2 separate regions of the Homo sapiens genome follow, and region 1 is linked to region 2. A link means that fine-mapping ties the variant in region 2 to the expression of a gene that starts in the linked region. Tissue or cell type: NK cells. Region 2 holds a variant in brackets; the other region holds the start of a gene. All regions are shown on one strand. Distances are between the middles of the regions.

The links. PIP is the estimated chance that this variant, and not a neighbour inherited with it, causes the effect.
Region 1: SENP7 starts here. The variant in region 2 is fine-mapped to the expression of SENP7 in NK cells (Schmiedel 2018, PIP 0.95).

Annotation. Positions count from the first base shown.
Region 1 is chr3:101,509,541-101,517,643 of GRCh38, forward strand. SENP7 (SUMO specific peptidase 7) reads right to left here and starts at 3,672. Exons shown (of 24, transcript NM_020654.5): 1 at 3,551-3,672. The coding sequence starts at 3,590.
Region 2 is chr3:101,397,784-101,405,888 of GRCh38, forward strand. SENP7 (SUMO specific peptidase 7) reads right to left here. Exons shown (of 24, transcript NM_020654.5): 6 at 1,078-1,272. Among named protein-coding and RNA genes, the nearest start is that of IMPG2, 81 kb to the left of the region's middle. The variant C/CA (reference allele first, on the strand shown) is at 4,833.

The DNA.
Region 1 (8,103 bases), 110 kb after region 2:
TGTGATTTAAGACCTTCCTCACTCTATACTATTTTTTGTGGGCAATTCCATTCATTCCAATGACTTCAACTAAGATTGCTGCAAATAATGCAGCTTTATCATAACTAATCGTTAAGTTCTCATCTTGAGCTTCAATTATCATTCATTACACTTTCAATGCAAAGCAAACATCACCTGGACCTACTGAAAGATTTAAGAAAGTTATACCATCAGGGACACTAGTAGCAGTAAATGAAGTTAAAACTATAGATTTTGTAATTAGAGACCACATTTTGAATTCTGTTCCTTACTAGCTATTACTAATCTTTATCCTGCCCCTAAATCCCGGTTTTCTCATCTGTAAATGAAAAACAATTACCTTATAAGGCTTTTGAAAATATTGAAGTTTGTGAAGTTCTTAGCACAATGTCTAGTGCCTAAGTACTTAAAGAACATACGTTATCCTTAACTACAAATGAGAGTGACACAGGCCTCCAAGAATGTTGCCTGAAGCAATCAGTTGAAAACTGGTTCAAATTTACTTGACGTTTCCTATTTTGATTCAAAAATTCACTTGAAAATTGCAGTCTATGATTCTAATTTATCTGTGCTGTATTTTTGTTGTTTAACACTTTTAATGGTCATTCTCCCTTGCTCCCAGACACTTTATCATTCAACTTCAGTGAACCTGTCTCTGATGCCAGCCGTTTTTTAATGTGTATCACCATCTAATATACTGCTTTAAATGGTATAGTTATCAGTTACATGAGTTACAAATACATGTGTTTAGCTTAAACCATCTGGAATTGGGTTTCTGCTACTTGCAACTGAAAAAGTTTTGAGCGGTACACTGTGAACATTTTACAGTTCTTCCTTGTTTAGCAGAAAGTTTAGGGCAGCCTAATGTAGTCTCACAGATAAAACTTCAAATTTTGTGTTTTATTTTATCTTTCTACTGCTACCCACCTTCCTTCTACCTCTTCTTCCTGTTTTATTAATCAAACTCTTCTGCATACTTAGGAAACTTTGATGACTATAAATGTCACTTCATGGCCGGGCACGGTGGCTCACGCCTGTAATTCCAGCACTTTGGGAGGCCGAGGCAAGTGGATCACCTGAGCTCAGGAGTTTGAGACCAGCCTGGCCAACATTGTGAAACCCCATCTTTACTAAAAGTACAAAAATTAACCGGGCATGGTGACAGGCACCTGTAATCTCAGCTGCTAGGGAGGCTGAGGCAGAAGAATCGCTTGAACCTGGGAGGCAGGGGTGGTAGATTGTGCCACTGCGCTCCAGCCTGGGCAACAGAGCGAGACTCCATCTCAAAAAAAAAAAAAAAAAAAAGTCACTTCATTTGGGTTCCAGTTAGCAACAACTTACAATGAAATGGCAACTGCATGCCTACAACCACTACACGGAATCTTTCAACCAGCCAATGTTTTATTTCTGAGAATTTATTCAGGAAATTAAATATACGCTATTAAGAAAAGCAGAAGCATACTTAAAAATTAATTAGTGCACATCTTAAAACTAGAGGCATACTGGAGAACAGCTAGGTAACATTAGATTTGGGTATGGATTTTATTATACCTTACTTTTCAGAAAGGACAGCTCCAAAAGAGAGATCACGAGAAAAAGAAAACGCTCTCTAGAGATATAACTAACGTAAATATCAATGTCTTTTAAGGATTAACAGCTTTATTATCAAAATCCACTTCCCACAACTACTTACATCAAGTTACTGTGACAAATAAATAAATCTAAGTGTAATCAGGTAAAAAGGAACGTGACTTGTTGAATTACAAGGCAAATATCTTACCTTCCCTCCTCAAAAATGTATTAAACCTAGATGAAATGCATTTATTTAAAAAAGGTTGTGCATCTCAAAGGAAGATATGATCACACCTAAAGTTCTGTGTTAGGAAGCCCGCAAATGACACCAGCTAAGCATTGTGCGTTTTCCTAATGTGTCCATTTTACTTAGAGGTTTGGTGGGGGGTGGAGACTATTAAAACACTCATCAGTTGGAGGCATATACCTACATGTATGTATAAATATACATATATATCATTTATACATGTGCTTTCAAAGGAAAAAACTATTATCTCCAGAATATACACCAAGAACATCGATAACATTGGTTGCATATGAAAAGGGATTTCAGGTTTTCAACTGCTTCAAGCAGTGTCCCCAGAGATCCATAATCACTCTCCTTTGCAATTAAGGCTGAAAGCAGTTTGAGATGCACTGCCACAGGGCACTCCTAAATAAATTTGGAATTGGTTTTTTTTGTTTTTTTTTTGTTGTTGTTGTTGTTTGATACAGAGTCTCGCTCTGTTGCCCAGGCTGGAGTGCAGTGGTGCGATCTCGGCTCACTGCAAGCTCCGCCTCCCGGGTTCACGCCATTCTCCTGCCTCAGCCTCCTGAGTAGCTGGGACTACAGGCGCCCGCCACCACGCCCGGCTAATTTTTTGCATTTTTTAGTAGAGACGGGGTTTCACAATGTTAGCCAGGATGGTCTCGATCTCCTGACTTTGTGATCCGACCGCCTCGGCCTCCCAAGGTGTTGGCATTACAGGCGTGAGCCACCGCGCCCGGCCAATAAATCTGTAATTGTTAACTGTCTCTGCAGAAACCAACGGTACCATCAGAAACAGAAAAATGAAATGAAATAATTGATTCATTGGGCGTTCGTTTGTGTACTGGACTGTAAGCATATGAGTCCTCGTCCTCTCCTCCTACCATCCATAGGACTTAACACAAGGACTTGAGGACCCCCTAATGGATGAAATGTTTGATAAAAACTTCTCAACTGGGAGGAGCTCTACCTCACGTTTTTATAACTCCACTTTCTTGTTTCCAAGACGTTGTACACAAAACTGAAGATAGTCATTTAAAACAAAGTAACGTCCAAAACAAAAAATATGCTGAAAATAAAAACACAACGAAAGCACGGCTTCAAATCCTTTGTTTGACTTTCCAATCACTTTTGGAAGACGCAGGGTAGGCTGGAAAAGAAAAAGGCTATTAGGCGGGCCTGTTCAGCAGAACGAGACCCGGAGAGGCATTGTATCAAAGAAAAGGAGTCTCCGGTCGCAAGCCCCACCTTTCCTCCCCAGCAGCAGCTACCTGCTGAGGGAAAGAGGAGGGAGAGGGGAAGGGACGCAAAGTCGAGAATCAAAGGAAGAGAGGAAAGTGGGGTCAGGCGCTGAGAAGCCGAAATGAAATTGGAACATTGGTGGAATTACGAGGAAGGCGTGGCAGAGAGTGACAAGCCAACCGGGAAGATCCATGGGCCGATGAGACGCAAGGAGGGTGTTCGCGGGAGGAGGGAAAAAATAAAAGGGGTTTTGAGGTGAAGAGCGCCCGAGGCTTCGATGACAGCTCGGACCGGGTCTTCGACTCCAGGGGCGGGGGCGACCCGGGAGCCTTCCATTGTGCGCGCCCCTTCCTCTCCCCGCCCCCGCCCTCGCCCCCGCGGCTTCGGGCCGCAACCCCAGCTGCCGCCTGCGCCTCCCGTTTCCCCCGGGTAGGAGACAATATGTTCAGCCCTTCTCTGACCCTTTCTCACCGGATGAAGATGGCCGTCGCCCGAGCTTTCTCTTGTCCATCTTCTCCCGCTGCTGAAATTTCAGTTGCAGGCGCTGTCACCTCAGGACCCCTCCGGCTTGGAGAGGGAGGGGGAGGGGAAAGGAAAAAAAAAAAAAAAAAAAAAAAAAAAAAAAAGCCCGCAAAGTGCGAAGCGCGCTTGCGCAAGAGCCGTCGCCTGCCCTTCGACCGGAAATCAGCCGCCCCTCCCACCTTCGACCGGAAATCACTTCCTGGGACTTTTCACTGTGGGCTGCCTCTTCCAGCGTTTTTTTGGTGGCGTTTATTTCATGATCTGAGCCCCTCTGGGGAGGTGAACCACCTGGGTGCTCGATTTTAGCTTTGTTGACTTTGAAGATTAGATTGACAAAAATTAAAAGGGAAAAACAGGAACTCCTCCGGTTCACTGGATCTCGCGAGGTGGCCAAACAACTATGAAAACAAAACGTTAGCGTTTGCAGTATTACATCCCTCACAGCCTCTCTTACATATTTGCCCCCAACGCCTTTCCTCGAACTCAGAAACCAAAAGATTTTAAGATGGCAAAATCACCTAATAATAGCCTAGCTATTAGTTTAGCATTTGCTGTGGAAATATGTCAGCAGACGAGGAAAAATGTCTTAGGATTCCTTTTTAAAATTCGAACTTGTGATTTTTAAAGTTCCTTAAAAGAAAAGCTAGAACTTAATTTTTCAATAACTGAAATGCTGATATGACAGAAAGTGGGTGGCTATAAACTTGGAATTTGTTCAATTAACATTTACCACGATACTTAAGGGACTAATCCAGTCCTCAATGAACTCAAGGTCTGGTACTATTAGCCTGATTATCCCTAATGGTGCATATCTGAATAATTTTTAAATGCACGTGTAAGCTTTCATGACGATTTAATCACAAGTTTAACAAAATTCAGCACAGTGCTCTAAGCAGGGAAAATGTTTCTGGCATGTTCAAAGCCCGAAGGGACTCTGGAAGTAGGGTTTGATTCCCAAGCTGGCCCCTTTATACCCCTAACGCCTATCCCTCCAACCCCCATCTCCCATCCTAACGGAGTCAATAAAGGGATCGGCCCAACTCGTCCACTAGAGCAGTCCCCTTCATCGTGAGTTAAGCCTTCTTAATTATAATGTGGTCAGTCCCCAGGTAGAGGTAAGGCCCCAGGTGTTGTGGGGTGTTGGGCCTGGGGAAGTGTTCTACATGGCAGGAATGACTGCAAAGCAGAAATACTTTAAGTCTTGCTGGGATTGAAGTTTACTGTAAGGATTTCGTTTTATTTGGTTAATTTCTGTTTAACAAAAACATTGCTTTCTGAAAAATAATTGAATTTTCAGTTTCCTCACAAATTAACTTTTTTTTTTTTTTGAGACGGAGTCTCGCTCTGTCGCCCAGGCTGGAGTGCAGTGGCACAATCTCGGCTCGCTGCAAGCTTCACCTCCTGGGTTCACGCCATTCTCCTGCCTCAGCCTCCCGAGTAGCTGAGACTACAGGCGCCCGCCACCACGCCCGGCTAATTTTTTGTATTTTTTAGTAGAGATGGGGTTTCACCATGTTAGCCAGCATGGTCTCGATCTCCTGACCTCGTGATCCGCCCGCCTCAGCCTCCCAGAGTGCTGGGATTACAGGCGTGAGCCACTGCGCCTGGCCCAAATTAACTTTTTTAACTAAAGAACTTAACTGATTCTAAAGTCAAGCTGGGCCGGACACAGTGGCTCGCGTCTGTAATCCCAGCACTTTGGGAGGCCGAGGCAGAATAGATTGAGCCAAGACATTCCAGACCATCCTGGGCAACAAAGCAAGACCCCCCTCTCCACAAAAATATACAGGCCAGATGCTATGACTCACCCTTGAGCCCAGGAGTTTGATACCAGCCTGGGCAATATAGTGAGACCTCCTCTCTACAAAGAAAAAAACTAGCCACACGTGGTGGCGCATGCCTGTAGTCCCAGGTACTCAAGAGGCTAAGGCAGGAAGATCACTTAAGCCCATGGAGTTAAAAGTTGCAGTGAGCCTTGATCAGGCCACTGCATTCCAGCCTGGGCGACAGAGCCAGACTGTCTCGGAAAAAAAAAAAAAAATGACCCGGGCACGGTGGAGCACACCTATAGTCCCCGGCTACTGGGGAAGATGAGATTTAAGGATTACTTGAGTCCAGGACTTTGAGGCTGCAGTGAGCTATGATCGCTACACGGTACTGCGGCCTGGGCGACACACAGATACCCTGTCTCCAAAAAACATAAAAAATAAACTTCCCAGACGATTCTGTTGCATACTCCAATTTGGTAAAACCAACACTTAGTGACATCTGCTTTTTTCTTTTTCCTATCTCTAATATTCTTTTTTCTATGTGTCCTTGCCTCTGGTGGATTAAATACAACTTTTTTGTTCCCTAGGGAGAGGTGAACAGTGAGGAGGGACATTATGTACTTTCATCTTATTTTGAAATTTCTACAGATATAATTTCACAACCACTATTATTTTCTACAATTTACTAAATGGAATTGTAATACAGGCATTATTATTTTTCTAAAAAACTGCATAATTGCTTTCTGTGTTGGGAAAAGAAAAATAGTGCTGCTTTTGTACCAAAACAGTATTCTTTCTTTCAAACATATTTTCTAGAGGTTTTTTGTTTTGTTTTGCTTTCCTAAATATGAAAATAAATGAAAACTTACTCGTTGTAAAAAAAAAAAAGTATCATTAGATATTTTTAAATATTCTGAGTAAAAGTATTCTCCATTCTGTGCTTCTTAATGGCATGGTATATACAAAAGGACCTTGTTCCTAAATATAAAAAAGGATTATAATTACTGTATTAGATTATTACTCTGTAACCAGGGGATTTCCTAACTTCTCAGATTATAAAATTACTTCTTATAAAAGCTTACTAATCACCTGTGAAAAATGTAAATATTGTTAAATGTAACCACTTTTGATCCTAGAAAGGAAAGGGGTTCCTTAAAAATCCAAATACGCTAATTAAAGTTATTTGCATCTATGATTCTGGTGTCCCACCCACCCTCTTCTTTAAAGATAATCACACCTAACCTAGAGAAGTCAAATTCAGAGAGATCGAAAGTAGAATGGTGGTTGCTAGTGCCTAGGATGAGGAGAATGGGGAGTTATTGTTTAATGGGTATAGAGTTACAGTTTTGTAAGATGAAAAGCATTCTGTGGATGGATGTCAGTAATGGTTACACAACAATATGAATGTACGTAATGCCTCTGAACTGCACACTTAAAAATGGTTAGAATGGTAAATTTTGTTATGTATATTTTCACAATTGTTTTTTAAGAAATAACCACACCTAGAACAAGTCATTACAGCTGTGTCACCACCTAATCCAGGATACTGGAAAAGCCTAATTTCAAATTTTCTTTAATGCGTATATGCTGTTCTCCTTTTTTAAAATTTTATTCTGCGTAAAACGACTGGAGTACTTGACATAGGAAACAAAGTGCCTACCAAATGGCCTCACTAAATTTTTGGTAAATGAATGAAATAAAAAGTCAAATACTATGCATTTTTAAATCTTTGGTAAAAACTAATCTTGGAGTGGGAGGAGGGTGAGCGTTGTAAAACTACCTATCAGATACTATGCTCGCTACCTGGGTAATGAAATCATTTGTATACCAAACCCCAGTGACACAAAATTTACCCTTGTAACACATTTGCACATTCCCCCGACCCTAAAATAAAAGTCAAAAAAGGGGAAAAAAAATCTTCTCTCAGGCTCCTGGGCTGCCTCAGTTACTTTGGGCATGCCACTTTACCTTTGAAAGCCTCAACTTCTCCATTTATAAAATAAACATGTTAGCTAAGAATATCAATAAGGTCCCTTCTAGCTCTAACAATCTTATTCTTGAAGGTAAACTATTGAAGGAAACCAGAATGTCACCTCAAAATATGCCTTTTTTTTTTTTTCCCGGAGACTGAGTTTTGCTCTTATTGCCCAGGCTGGAGTGCAATAGCACGATCTCAGCTCACTGCAACCTCCGCCTCCCAGATTCAGGTGATTCTCCTGCCTCAGCCTCCCGAGTAGCTGAGATTACAGGCACCTGCCACCATGCCTGGCTAATTTTTGTATTTTTAGTAGAGACAAGGGTTCAGCATGTTGGCCAGGCTGGTCTCGAACCCCTGACCTCGTGATCCACCTGCCTCAGACTCCCAAAGTGCTGGGATTACAGGCGTGAGCCACTGTGCCAGGCCAAAATATACCTCTTTTATATAAAAATTATTTTTGAGCTGAAGGCAATTAAGGAGGGAAAGCTCGCTCTCTCCTTTTTCTGCCTAAAAGGCAGGACATAAATTCTGTCTAGGCTCTTACCAGCCCAGAAAGCCCCAGACGAATCTGCAAACAAACCTTACTGTATTAGTTTCCTTCTGTAGATTTACATTCCCACAGTTTCTCACCCTTGGAAGCCTAAAACTCTTTCCTTTGTTCTTTCTTCTCTCCAGAAATTTATTGTTCTTCGTTGAAGATACTTACATAAGCCAGAGTTGTAAGCCACTGTTTTGAGTTACTCCGCATTTACGTT
Region 2 (8,105 bases):
GATAATCAACTTTTCATCTATATAAAAAGTATCCTACAGGCTGAACACAGAAAATAAAAAGAGAAGCTTCAGAAGCTTGTAGCAAATGGAAGTTTATAAATCTAACAGAATGTACTAACTGACCATCCCTAGCTTTGTGCCACAGATTTTTTCTTATTTCCAGTCCACACACAATCCTCTCCTAGAGCTTAAAACAAAGGCAACTTCAGATCTGCATTTCTCTTATTGGCACAACAAGCTACATTTGTCAATGGAATTCAGCTTTTCCATTTGTTAATGGAAAATCTCAAACCATTTTTTTAAGGAATGTGTTCAGCCATTCATTCAAAAACTATTTACTGAGCACTAAGTACTAGTTAAAATTCTAGAGTCTGAATATAAAAATAACGGACAAGGCCGGGGGCAGTGGCTCACGCCTGTAATGCCAGCCCTTTGGGAGGCTGAAGCAGGCAGATCACAAGGTCAGGAGATCGAGACCATCCTGGCTAACACGGTGAAACCCTGTCTCTACTAAAAAATACAAAAAATTAGCTGGGCGTGGTGGCACGTGCCTGTAGTCCCAGCTACTTGGGAGGCTGAGGTAGGAGAATCGCTTGAACCTGGGAGGCAGAGGTTGCAGTGAGCCGAGATCATGCCACTGCACTCCAGCCTGGGCGACAGAACGAGACTCCGCCTCAAAAAAATTAAAGTAAAACAAAATAACAGACAAGACTGAATGGGTAGATGGATAGATGGACAAATAGAACAGAAAAAGAGAGGGCAATAGACTAATGTCAGAGGAATGGATTTCAATTACACCAGACAAACTGGGATACTGAAATAGGTTACCAGATTTTCATTAAGTGTCTGTATCCATTTTTCCAAAATACAAGTATGGTGGCCAGTGCTTCTGAAACACATTATTAGCCATGGACTGTTGGTTCCAATAGCCATTCCAGCCACCCGGGGAGAAAAATAATACCAGCTATCAGAGCACATTTACCTCACATTTAGCAATAATGTATCTGTGAAAAAGAACAGGGAAGGATACATAAAAATAAATATAATTATTTTGAGTAAAGTTATCACTAAACATACCTTTCAGATAAATAACAGCTCTTGTGAGGGTTTAGATTTTGATAAGATTCTAGGCTGCCATCAGATGATGAAGAAAGTTGCTCTGATTGCAAGTTGTCTGTATCACTCAAACTTCCCTCAGTTACAGGTGGGGTCCTTATGTATTTTCTTCCTAACTCCGTTCCCAGGACATTCGTCAATATAACTCTGGGTATCCTGTCACATAGAATAACAAACACTGTACTGTACTGAAGTTTTCAGTTAAAAAAAAATGTATTCCAGGAAGGTGAATTTTCAATCATTGCCATCTTAGCACAAGAAAGCTGTTCGAACTACACCACCCTAGAAATTAACCCATAAATACTTAAAAATTTAGAAAAACACAATCTTTTGGTTTATAGAAGCACTTGTTTCTTATCACTTATAACATAGATTAGCCTGCCACTACAATATCTTTAATTATACTAATGGATGCCATTGAGAGGCTTAAAATTTTAACAAATTCTTCTCTAAAAATGCTTTCTTTCCTTTTCCAGAAATTATTAAAAACACAGCTTACTACAAATCAATTCAAGAAATCTTTGTTCTTCTCATTTAACAGAAATGTCTTTGATAAGTAATTTACATACTTGCAATTGGGAAATGACAAATAATAAATCCAACAAGACATCATTCAGATTGCATCTCTGGTAATGAAAGATTCCGTAACTGAAACAGCACATATAATGGTGATAACATATATGCTAATATGTAATAGCATCAGGAAAAGAGTCAATACATTTAAATGTTTAGAAAATTAAAGTTTTTGTTTAGTTGGTTTTTCTTTTTTGAGACTGCAGTGCAGTGACACAATCACAGCTCACTGCAGCCTCGATCTCCTGGCCCAAGTAATCCTCCTACCTCAGCCTCTTAAGTAGCTGGGACTATAGGCACAAGCCACCACGCCCAGGTAACTTTTTTATTTTCTGTAGTGACTATGTCTCATTATGTTGTCCAGGCTGGTTTCAAACTCCTGGGCTCAAGCAATCCTCCCACTTCAGCCTCCCAAAATTCTGAGATTACACGTGTGAGCCACTGCATCTAGCCTGGACTGTATTTTTAAGTCTCCAGACCTTAAATTGGTGAGTTTTATATCAAATGCACTATATAAGCCTGATATCTTCTTAAACAGAAGATGTACATTTGATATATAAAGAAGTACATTTGGTATAAAATTAGTGCAATATTTACTCTGCTGGCCAGTCATTATTATGAACATTACTTTGCCACACTACAATAATGCCTTCAATATTGATATTCAGCCCAGAATTCACTGGCCCAAGCCAAATTATTGTGATTTTTTTAAGTTCCTGTTATGTAATTTTAAAGTTTTCCTAACTCCTCTTTATTAGATGCCCAGTTGACTGTTATCAATATGCCACTAGCAATACTTTACTTATACTTTGTTTGTAAGAAACAATATATAGAAAGAGCCAGAGTACGAGCATACCTCATTTTATTGTGCTTCACTTTACTGCACTTCACAGATACTGTGTTTTTCACAAATGCAAGGTTTGTGGCAACCTTGAGTAGAACACATCTATCAGCATGACTTTTCCAACAGCATGTGCTCACTTTGTGTGTCTGTGTCACATTTCGGTAACTCTCAAAATATTTCAATCTTTTCATTATTATTATATCTAGTATGATGATCTGTAATCAGTGATATTTGATGGCACAATTGTAATTGCTTTGAAGCACCACAAACCATGCATGCATAAGACATTGAACTTAATTAACAAATGCTGTGTGTGTTCTGACTGCTTCACCTACCAACCATTCCCCTATCTCTCTCTCTCTCCTCAGGCCTCCTCCCTATCCCCTGAGACACAGCAATGTTGAAATTATGCCAATTCCAGCACTACCATGGCCTCTAAATATTCACGTGAAAGGAAGAGTCTCAAGTTTCTCACTTTAAATCAAAAGCTAGAAATGGCTGGGTGTGGTGGCTCACACCTGCAATCCCAGCACTTTGGGAGGTCAAGGTGGGACAATCACTTGAGGCCAGGAGACTGAGGCCAGCCTGGGAAACACGGCAAGACTCCATCTCTACAAAACATAATTAACGAGCCATCCAGCCATGGCAGTACATGCCTGTAGTCCGAGCTACTTGGGAAGCTGAGAGAGGAGCATCACTTGACCCCAGGAGTTCAAGGCTGCAGAGAGCTAGGATTGCGCCACCTCTGTTTGCCTGGGAAAGAGAGCAAGTCCTTGTCTCAAAAAAAAAAAAAAAGAACTAAAAATTACTAAACCTAGTGTGGAAGGCATGTTGAAAGCTGAGACAGGCTGAAAGCAAGACTGCTTGCTGCAGAGTCAAGTTGTGAATGAGAAAGAATAGTTCTTGAACAAATTTAAAAGTGCTACTCCTGGCCAGGTGCAGTGGCTCACACCTATAATCCTAGCACTTAGGGAGGCTGAGGCAGGAGGATCACTTGAGGTCAGGAATTCAAGACCAGCCTTGCCAACATGGTGAAACCCCGTCTCTACTAAAAATACAGAAATTAGCCAGGTGTGGTGGCAGGCACCTGCAATCCCAGCTACTCGGGAGGCTGAGGCAGAAGAATGACTTGAACCCAGGAGGCTGAAGTTGCAGTGAGCCAAGATACTGCCACTGCATTCTAGCCTGGGCGACAGAGCAACACTCCATCTCAAAAAAAAAAAGGAAAAAAAAGGAAAAAAAAGTGCTACTCCTATGAACACACAAATAATAAGAAAGCAAAACAGTCTTACTGATGATATGGAGAAAGTTATAGTAGTCTGAATACAACATCAAATCAGCCACAGCATTCCCTTAAGCCAAAGCCTAACTCAGAGCAAGATACTCTCTTCAATTCTATGAAGACTGAGAGAGGTTAGGAAGCTGCAGAAGAAAAGTTGGTTTACAAGCTTTAAGAAAAGAAGTTGTCTCAGCCTGAGCAACATAGTGAGACCCTGTCTCTACAAAAAATAGAAAATATTAGCTTAGTATGGTGGCATGCACCTGTAGCCTCAGCTACTCGGGAGACTGAAGTGAGAGGATCACTTTAGCCTGGGAGATCAAGGCTGTAGTGAGCCATGATGACGCTAGCTGGGAGGTCAAAGCTGAAATGAGTCATGCTGGGCAACAGAATGAGACCCTGCCTCAAAAAAAAAAAAAAAAAACTATCTCCATAACATGAAATGCAAGGTGAAGCAGCAAGTACTGATGGAGAAGCTGCAGCAAGTTATCCAGAAGATCTAGCTAAGATAAGTGATGAAGGTGGCTACACTAAACAACAGATTTTCAATGTAGATGAAAGATCCTTCTATTGGAATAAAATGACATCTAGGAATTCCATACCTAGAAAGGAAAAGTCAATGCATAAGTTCGAAAGACAGGCTGACTCTCTTGTTAGGGGCTAATGAAGCTGGTGTCTTATCTGTGAAGCCAGTGCTCAATTACCATGCAAAAGATCCAATGGCCCTTAAGAATTATGCTAAATTGGGCCAAGCATGGTGGCTCATGCCTGTAATCCCAGCACTTTGGGCGGCAGAGGCCGGCGGATAACTTGAGGTCAGGAGTTCGAGACCAGCCTGGCCAACATGGTGAAACCCCACCTCTACTAAAAAAAACAATTTGCCAGGCATGGTGGTGCACACCTGTAGTCCCAGCTACTTCAGAGGCTGAGGCAGGAGAATCGCTTGAACCTGGGAGGCGGAGGTTGCAATGAGATCATGCCACTGCATTACAGCCTGGGCGACAGAGCAAGACTCCGTCT[C/CA]AAAAAAAAAAAAAAAAAAATGCTAAATCTACTTTGCCTGTACTCTAAAAATGGAACTACAATGTCTGGATGACTGGATGACAGCACATCTGTTTACAGCGTGGATCACTGAATCACTTAACACCATCTTTGAGAACTGCCACTCAGAAAAAAAATAAATAAAATTCCTTTCAAAATATTACAGCTCGTTGACAATGCACCTAGTCACCCAAGAGCTCTGATGGGGAGGTACAAGAGAATTCGTGTTGTTTTCATGCCTGCTAATAAAACATCCATTCTATAGCCCATGGATCAAGAAGTAATTTCAAGTTTCAAGTCTTACAATTTAAGAAATACATTTCATATAGCTACCACAAACAGTGATTTCCTCTGATGGGTCTGGGAAAAGTAAACTGAAAATCTTCCGGAAAGGATTCATCATTCTAGATGCCTCTGCATAAAACAACAAAGGTAACAAAGTACAGTGAAGTTCACATTTTCACTTAAACAAAAGTATACGCATATACTTGGAGACAGGGCCAGTTCAGTTCCAGACCCCCGCCATAAAGTGAGTATCACAATAAAACACGTCACACAAATTTTGTGGCTTCCTAGTGAATATATAATTATGTTTACACTATACTGTAGTCTATTAAGTGTGCAATGGCACTATGACTAAAACAATGCACATCCCCTAATTAAAAATTTTACTATTTTTCCCTACATAAAGACACTATGTTCATTTCATTATGTTCCAGACAGCATAAAATTTTAGATCCTTGGAGAACTTTAAAATAAATTAGTCCTCTCTTTATTGTAAACATGAAGAACCCAACGCTCAGAAAAGTTAAATAAGCTGCCCAAGTATAAGTAGCTTTCCTAGTGGAAGAACCTGGGCCTGTTATCTTTGGGGGTTTTTTGTCTGTCCTATTACATTATACTACATCCTCAATGCTAATTTGCCAAAGGATTCCAGATAACTGAGATTGCCAACAGATACTTCAGGAAACTCTTGAAAATATCCATTTATACCATAATCAGAATAAAAAGTGCTGCAACAACTATCTAGAAAACCCGATAGTCTCAGCACAAAAGCTCCTTCAGCTGATAAAACAACTTGAACAAGGTTTCAGGATAAAAAAAATCAATGTACAAAAATCACTAGCATTCCTATATACCAACAACAGCCAAGTGGAGAACCAAATCACAAAGGCAATCTCATTCATAACAGCCACAAAAAGAATAATATACCTCTGAATACAGCTAACCAGGGAGGTGAAAGATCTCTATAAGGAGAACTATAAAACATTACTTTAAAAAATCAGAGAAGACACAAACAAATGGAAAAACATCCCAGGCTCATGGATAGAAAGTATCAATATTAAAATGGCCATATATCCCAAAGCAATTTACAGATTCAATGCTATTCCTATCATACTACCAACAACATTCTTCATAGAATTAGAAAAAACTACTTTAAAATTCATATGGAACCAAAAAGAACCCCATATAACCAAGGCAATCCTAAGCAAAAAGAAGAAAACTGGAAGAATCACCTTACATCCCTTCAAACCATGTTATAGGGCTATAGTAACCAAAACAGCATGGTACTGGTACAAAAATAAACACACAGACTAATGGAAAAGAATAAAGAGCCCAGAAGTAATACTACACACCTACAATTCTGTGATCTTTGACAAACCTGACAAAAACAAGCAATGGACAAAGGGCTCCATATTTAATAAATGATGCTGGGAAAAGAACTAGCCATATGCAAAAAATTGAAATTGAACCCGATTTTTACACCATATATAAAAATTATCTCAAGATGGATTAAAGACTTAAATGTAAAACCTAAAAGTATAAAAAACCTAGAAGAAAATTTAGGCAATACCATGCAGGACGTAGGCAGGCACGGGCAAAGATTTCATGACAAAAATGCCAAAAGCAATTGCAACAAAAGCAAAAATTGACAAATGGGATCTAATTAAACTAAGGAGCTTCTGCACAGCAAAAGAAACTATCATTAGAGTGAACAGACACCCTATAGAATGGGAGAAAGTTTTTGCAATCTATCCATCTAACAAATGTCTAATTTCCAGAGTTTACAAGGAACTTAAACAAATTAACATGAAAAAAAGCAAACAATCCCATTACAAAGTGGGCAAAGGACATGAACAGACACGTTTCTAAAGAAGATACACATGCAGACAATAATCATATTTTAAAAGCACAACATCACTGATCATTAGAGAAATAAAAATCAAAACCACAATGAGACGCACAGTGAGAAAACAATGTGAAGAGACACAGGGAGAAGACAGCCATCTACAAGCCAAAGAGAGAGGCCTGGCACAGGCGTTCTCTCACAGCCCTCAAAACACCTTGATTGGATTTCTTGCCTCCAGAATTGGGAACAAAAGGGGATAATGGTGGATGGGAGGCAGACTAGATTGCAGCTCTGACTCGACAGACAGAGCAGCATGTGGAAGCTCGCATCGTGAATTTTTGCTCCAGAACAACTGCAGGAATAAATCAGGAAGCCTAAGAGGACCCACACACCTCCTGAAGGAAGCAGAGTACACCAGCATGACCCAGGACACCCCAAATACTATGCTGGTATCCATGGCTGAGAGACCCATAGATGGTTCAGGTCACAAGACTCTGTGCAGACAACCGCCAGTACCAGCCCAGAGCCTGGTAGAATAGCTGGGTGGCTAGATCCAAAAGAAAGATAACAATCACTACAGCTCCGCTCTCAGGAAGCCACATCCATAGGAAAAGGGCGAGAGTACTATAATAAGGGAACACCCCATGGGACAAAGGAATCTGAACAACAGCCTTCAGCCCTAGACCTTCCCTCTGACAGAGCCTACTCAAATGACAAGGAACCAGAAAACCAACTCTGGTAATATGACAAAATAAGGTTAACACCTCTGAAAAATCATACTAGCTCACCAGCAATGGACTCAAACCAAGAAGAAATCCCTGATTTACCTGAAAAAGAATTCAGGAGGTTAGTTATTAAGCTAATCAGGGAGGCACCAAAGAAAGGTGAAGCCCAGTGTAAGGAAGTCCAAAAAATGATACAAGAGGTGAAGGGAGAAATATTCAAGGAAATAGATAGCATAAATAAAAAACAATCAAAACTTCAGGAAACTTTGGACACACTTATAGAAATGCAAAATGCTCTGGAAAGTCTCAGCAATAGAATTGAACAAGTGGAAGAAAGAAATTCAGAGCTTGAAAACAAGGTCTTCAAATTAACCCAATCCAACAAAGACAAAGAAAAAA